2 linked regions of the Homo sapiens genome follow. The protein of the gene in region 2 purifies or fractionates together with the protein of the main gene of each other region. This does not show direct contact. Each region holds a gene or a part of one and is shown on either strand. Other genes may lie near its edges. The genes, in order: UBL7 and PPP1R14C.

Evidence for each region.
Region 1: the proteins of PPP1R14C (region 2) and UBL7 fractionate together in Homo sapiens (co-fractionation; one large-scale study listed by BioGRID). This does not show direct contact.

Annotation. Positions count from the first base shown.
Region 1 is NC_000015.10:74,454,438-74,458,253, forward strand, and holds part of UBL7 (ubiquitin-like protein 7), read right to left. Parts: intron 2,235-3,816; coding exon 2,115-2,234; intron 1-2,114.
Region 2 is NC_000006.12:150,209,014-150,212,829, reverse strand, and holds part of PPP1R14C (protein phosphatase 1 regulatory subunit 14C), read right to left. Parts: intron 1-3,816. UniProt on the Homo sapiens protein: Inhibitor of the PP1 regulatory subunit PPP1CA.

The sequences.
Region 1 (3,816 bases), on a different chromosome or scaffold from region 2:
GCCCAGGCTGGAATACAATGGCGTGATCTCGGCTCATTGCAACCTCTGCCTCTTGGGTTCAACCGATTCTCCTGCGTCAGCCTCTCAAGTAGCTGGGATTACAAGCAGGCACCACCATGCCTGGCTAATTTTGTATTTTTAGTATAGACGGGGTTTCTCCATGTTGGTCAGGCTTGTCTCGAACTCCCAATCTCAGGTGATCCGCCCACCTCGGCCTCCCAAAGTTCTGGGATTACAGGCGTAAGCTGCTGCACCCGGCCAGAAAGGACTTCTTACAGGATTTTGGTTTTGTCTGGCTGATTTGGGGAAAAATTTAAAGAAGTGAGGTTTTACTCTGGATAGGATGCTTTCAGGCAGTGGGAGTGATTTTATAATTGAGTATCTTAATAACTCTTACCTAGAAGGAAGGAAAACTAGAGCAAGGTGGAAGCTGTAATTGGCCAAGAAGCAGCTGTTACTCTCATCAGCCAAGATAGAAAGATACTTGGTCACCTTTGTGGTTTGGATAATGCTCATGTTTTTGTGTTTCTGTTCAGCAATAATAGGGATCTTGTTTTTGTCTTAATCCATAGTGGTCTCAGAGTGGCCTTGACTGCTACTGGGGATCTGTACAATTGTTCATGATCCCCAAAAGGATTCCAGGGCCTGGCTGTGAGTGCCAGGCCAACCTCTGGATGTCAGGAACTCTGTTCCTCTTTCTCACTTCCCATCAGGGTATGAAAGACATTTTTGTCTTTTACAGTTAGAACTGAAAGGGGGGTAAATTTCAAACTGATAACTAGTCACAGCAATCATGAACATTATAAAAAGATGTCAACCTGCCAGTGTAACAAAGCTAATCTCTTTTACACAGCTTAGCTTTATTCTTAGGGAGGCTTTTAAAACACACATGCAAAATTTAAATCATGAATTCCAAGCACCTTCTATTTATAAACCAAAAAGGCATCTGAGGCTTTGTATATTTTCTCCAAGAGCTATTTAAATACTCTTTGAATATCTTCAGGAAAATACCAGTATAGCAAGAGCAGTTAGCTAACTGAACAAATCACCACCTGAGGCAGTTTGTAGGAAGATTTGTTAACAAGGGAATAAACTGCAGCATTAGGAAAGTGCCAAAAGTTTCCAGCTTTTTTCTAATGAGAACAACGATAATAACAAAAGGATACAAAGTTTACTTTGTATCACTAAAAAATAAACTGTTAACTTAAAGGAGTTTAAGTAGACACAAACTCCCTGTCCCATTAGGAAACAGTGGATGACAAACTTAGAAAGTGGAGAAACAAGCCAGGAATGGTGCCTGTACTTTGGGAGGCTGAGGTGGGGTGGATGGCTTGAGGTCAGGAGTTCGAGACCAGGTTGACCAACATGGAGACACCCCGTCTCTACTAAAAATACAAAAATTGAAGGCCGGGTACAGTGGCTCACGCCTTTAATCCCAGCACTTTGGGAGGCCGAGGCGGGCAGATCACAAGGTCAGGAGATCGAGACCATCCTGGCTAACACGGTGAAACCCCGTCTCTACTAAAAAACACAAAAAAAATTAGCCAGGCTTGGTGGTGGGCGCCTGTAGTCCCAGCTACCTGGGAGGCTGAGGCAGGAGAATGGTGTGAACCCGGGAGGCGGAGCTTGCAGTGAGCCAAGATCACACCACTGCACTCCAGCCTGTGAGACAGAGTGAGACTCCGTCTCAGAAAAAAAAAAAAAAAAAAAATTAGCTGGGCATGGTGACTCATGCCTGTAATCCCAGCTACTCGGGAGGCTGAGGCATGAGAATCACTTGAACCTGGGAGGCGGAGGTTGCAGTGATCCAAGATCAAGATTGTGCCACTGCACTCCAGCCTGGGCAACAGAGTGAGACTGTCTCAAAAAAACCAAAAAACAAAAAACAAAATGGAGAAACAAATCTTCCATTAGTGATGCCGGCAGTAAGAAGGTCAAAATTGGACTCTGTTTATCAGCATGGTCTAATCCAATAAGTAATAAAGATATCATTTATCATCAGCTCAGTAAATCATCCCTTTGTTCCACCCAGGCTTGTGCCTCAAGAACACACAGATCCTTCCCTTGCGGATATTACAGAAACTCTGCCTGCCTAAGGGCTGCCCCTCACTCACCCGGTTTCTGATCAGGTTCAGGCCAGGACTTTCGCAGAACATGGACAGTGGACCCAGGTTGAATGCCATAGAAGTCAAGTGTCTGGTCATCTTTTAGCTTCCGACCACAGTAGATCAGATCTAAAAAAAGAACTGTCCACTTATATTTTGCTCCTCAAAACAAATTTACATGGTTTTTGTCCCGAGAACCTTATTTTGATTAGATAGCTGGAGAATGATACATGTTTTAAAAGATACTCTTATTCAATAACTTAACAAATACTTTTTTTTTTTTGGAAAACAGGGTCTTACTCTGTTGCCCAGGCTTGAGTGCAATGGCACCATCACGGTTCACTGCAGCCTCAACCTCCTGGGGTCAAGCAATTCTCCCACCTTAGCCTCCTGAGTAGCTGGGACTACAGGCACATGCCACCACACCCAGCTAATTTTTGTAGTTTTTTGTAGAGACGGGGTTTTGCCATGTTGCCTAGACTAGTCTCTTAACTCCTGGGCTCAAGGGATCCTCCTGCCTTAGCCTCACAAAGTGCTGGGATGACAGGCGTGAACCACCATGCCTAGCCAATTAAATACATTTCAACAACTATTTGCAAATATAAACTCATAAAATGGACTTACATCGAATCTGGCCAGATGTGGTGGCTCACACCTATAAACCCAGCACTTTTGGAGCCTGGCCGACATGGCGAAACCTGGGCCATGGCGAAAATTAGGGCCGGGCACGGTGGCTCACACCTGTAATCCCAACACTTTGGGAGGCCGAGGTGGGTGGATCACCTGAGGTCAGGAGTTCAAGGCCAGCCTGGCCAAGATGGTAAACCTCGTCTCTACCAAAAATACAAAAATTAGCCAGGCATGGTGGCAGACGCCTGTAATCCCTGCTACTCAGGAGGCTGAAGCAGGAGAATTGCTTGAACCCAGGAGGCGGAGGTTGCAGTGAGCCAAGATCACACCACTGCACTCCAGCCTGGGCAACAGAGCAAGACTCTGTCTCAAAAAAAAAGAAATATATATATATATACACACATACACACAAAAATTAGCCAGTTGTGGTTGTGCGGGCCTGTAATCCCAGTTATTCAGGAGGCTGAGGCAGGAAAATTGCCTGAACCTGGGAGACAGAGGTTACAATGAGCTGAGATCTCGCCACTGCACTCCAGCCTGGGCAACAGAGCAAGACTCCGTCTCAAAAAAAAAAAAAAAAAAAAAGGATTCACACAGAATCTATCCACAGAAAAACTCTGGAGTTTAACATTGTGGAGGCTGCCCAATTTAAATCAATGGAAAAACAACAAAATAGGATGAACCCAATCCAGGTATGACTGAAAACATCTTTCTTGCCAGTTGGATCCTTTAGCTATTAAAAATTACCTTTTCAGTGTAATTTAATTATATTTAAATTCCTCCCTCCTCCACCTGGACTGCCCACGCCACTTTTTCTTTTTTACTGCCTTTCCTTTACTCAGTCAACCAAGCAAAAATCCTTCTAATCATCCCTGAAGACCTACCTCAAATATACTGAGGAGCCTCCCCTGACCAACTTCTCCTTTCCTAACTCATCCCAAACTTCTGTTCTTTCAGAAAAAGAATTCACAATGTTGGCCAGGAGCGGTGGCTCATGCCTGTAATCCCAGCATTTTGGGAGGCTGAGGCGGGCAGAATCACAAGGTTAGGAGTTCAAGACCAGCCTGGCCAACATGGTGAA
Region 2 (3,816 bases):
GGACAGCATATTACCATACGGAATAATGTAGGCAACGGTAACACAGTGGGAAATATTTGCGCATCTAAACATAGAAACGGTACGTTAAAAACAGGGTATTATAATCTTATGGGACCACTGTCATATATGCAGTCCATTGTTGACTGAAATGCTGTTATGCGGTTCGTGACTGCACTCGCCAGCTATACCACTGTGGCTCCTTAAATCACAGCTAAGGGAGCTTGGTGTCTGCTATTTTTAAAGGAAATGAGAGAACAATTAGTAACTAATGCCCTCCGCAGAACAGCACAGCAATGGGTTTTTCTGCAAATATAATTCAAATAGTTTTGACGCCAGCCAAGTTAGGCCAAACAGGCTTTGACTTGCATAGCAGTGTAGAGCCTCGCCCTACACAGTAGGCATCTTCAGTTAGGCATCTTCCCCTTAGGACTGTGCACGGCTCTCTGTTAGGTATTGCACTGACCCATTTTCCCCAACCCCTGAGATCTGGGCTGTCCCATATGGTAAGCATATGTGGTAAGCACATTTGAATACATTAAAATGAAATACAACTCAGTTCCTCAGTCGCAATGACCACATCTCAAGTGCTCAATAGCTACACGAGGCAAGTGGCTACTGTGCTGGAAAGCACAGATGGAGAGCACTTGCATTGTAGCAGAAAGCTCTATTGGACAGTGCTACCCCAGAGTACACTCGCCCTCTGGCCCAGAAGTTGGGAAGCAAAGCCCCTTCCCCTCTCAAAGGGGCTTGACAGGAGTAAAGAAAAAAATGCCAGGCATCTCAAGGTCACTCCTACTACCCAAGGGCATGTGATGAGAAACCCTGAGCTTGGTTTTACCAGCCAGAAAGCTGATGCAAACAAAGCCCAGATCTCAAGGGTTGGGGAAAAAACCTCAAGTGATTGAGTCATCGTTAACAGCCATTAGGCATCTGCGCTTTTTACCAACCTATGCTGCTTCTCAGAAATCCCACCCTGATTTATCAGAGGCATAGGAAGAGAAAGGCATCCCGCTCCCAGCTCAGCATGCGTCCCGGGTGTTCTGAATGTCAGTGAAGCTGAAACAAAACCCAGGTGAGAAGAACATAGAGACCCAGAGGCTCTTGAGGGAGAGTCCTGGGAAGCAAAGACAGCACCTAGTACCAAGTAGAGAATCCTGTAAATTGGTACTTAATATTCTTAATGAGAAGTATGGAAATATTCTAAATTTGATTGAAGTCCTATTTAACTTTATCTTCTGTATGCTGATCTTAGAGCAGTATCACTGAATGACCTTAGTGATAGATCAAATCACTTACAAAGGAGGGAACATGCCCATGGCCCACCATGACGTCCCAGAGCTTAGTTGTGTTTGGGCATTTTCCCACATTAAAGGTGTGTCCCTAAACAGTGGCTCTGGTGACAAAAAGTGAAACAACTGTCTTCACAGCTGCTGGGGAAAGTTATCAGCTACTCCCTGCCCCACATTAGTGAGAGGCCCTCCTGTTGGTACCCATAGCACGAGGCCCTGGATCACCTCTACACATCTTTCTTGTCGTACATTTGTTGAGAACCCAGAGTCCGCAGAGTGCAAGGCACTGTGTGTCAGCCACAGTGAGGCCCTGGCACTGGGGGACGGGCTGTCTAAACACAGCTCTGACAAACACAATGACATGCAATGGCCCCAAAGCCACAGACAAACCTGAAGCGCTTTAGTGATTCAGGGAGAGAGAAAACTCCGCCAGGGGCAGGCAGGGAAGTTGCACACAGGAGGGAGGAGGTGAACTGACCTTGCGGAATGACAGGATTTGAACAGGTTTAGAGGGAAGGGAGAGCACTCCCAAGAGGCAAAATGGTAGCAGGAGGCAAAGAGACAAGATGAATTCTAAATGTGGGTGTAGAAAGGTCCTTGGCCAGGAAGCCAGTCAGCTCTGGGCTGCAAATATGCACGTCGATGGGGGCCAGACAGGTGACAGAAATGGAGCAGGCTGAGGGGCTATACAGTAGAGTGAGGAGTGCAGCAAACTGGAGAAAACATGGCCTGAGGGAAAGCAGCAGGGAACACGCCATTCCCACCTCCTGTCACCTTCTAGGAATATGTGCTCAGTGCTGCTGGATTTTCTACGTTTTCAGGAATAACTGAAAATAGAGTTTTTTAATGTAAAAAAATTCCAATTTTTAAAGCTGTCCGTCAACTTCTTAAAATATTGTGTAGGATAAACAAAACCCATTGGCCCATAGGCTGCCGGTTCCCCTTGTCCTGCAGAGACTGTCACACTGAAGGCTCCATGGCTCCAGAACAAGACAGGGGAATGACAGAAGGAAGAGATGGCCCCACTGCGGAGCCCGGGATAACAGGGAGGAGGCAGGAGGCTGTGGGAATGTCATGTATCAGGTGCGAAGCAACAGGGCTTGAAGATGATCCTGGCAAAAATAAGATTTTAAAATAGTGATAATAGGGAGGAATAAACAGATGGAGTTTGGAGATGAACTGGATGAGGGATCGGGGGAAAGAAAAGGTAAAGATAAGATCCAGGTTCTGAGGCTGAGAGGTTTTGGAGAAGGACAGTAATGACGGGAGCACACCGGGGCTCTGAAGACACCTCACAAACCAACACACAGTGTAGGCTTGGCCATCACCAGCCCCCTTGCCCCAACTTGCAAGCAGCAGTGGGACTCCGCATTGCCACTGCACTGGGAAGCGCTGCAGAACCTGGCGCTGGGCATGCCACGGATGAAGCTCAGAACAGGCTCAGGTACCAGGATGCAGAAATGCAAGCAAAGCAGGGTCCTGAAACACAGCTGGCCCGCAGTGACAACACACACACACACACAAATATATACACAAACATACACAAATATATACACAGACATACACACACATGAATACACACAATCCACACCACTCATACACACACATGCACACACACATACACAAACATATACACATACACACAGATGAATACACTCCACACCATTCATACACTCACATCCACACACACACACACACAAATATATACACAAACATACACACACATGAATATAAACACTCCACACTACTCACTCACATGCATGCACACACAAATATATATACAAACATACACACACGAATACACACACTCCACACTACTCATACGCTCACATGCACACACACACACACAAATACATACACAAACATACACTCCATGTGAATACACACATGGATGAATACACAAACATGAATACACACACTCCACACCACTCACATGCATACACACACACAAATATATACACAAACATACACACAGATGAATACACACACTCCACACCATTCATACACTCACATCCACACACACAAACACATACACAAACATACACACACATGAATACACCCATTCCACACCACTCATACACTCACATGCACACATACACACATACACAAATAAACACACAGATATATACACACACTTCTAACTAGCCAGAAAGTTTACACTGTCAGCCCTGTCTGATGTCACATTAGCTTTTAAAAAATATAAACGTTCACCCCTGCCCACAGCAGTGAAGGGAGCAGGCAGGAATGTTCAAGCTAAAACCTCACCTGAAGATGGATCATGGTCTCCAAGCTCTAGGAGACATAGCTTGGCAGCTTCCTGGAAATGACTGTGGCTAACAGCTCTCATCCGTCTCCATTTCAAAATAGGGATGGCAACGTAACACGGGATTAAACTCCTGTGCAAATTGTGGCAGCTGATGGAGAAACGTGGGGTGGCAGGGGTGGGGAGTGGCAAATGTCAGCTTATTATGGCCTGTTCAAACACTCATCTGAACAATAGCCACAATTTCTTATAGCTCATCTTTCT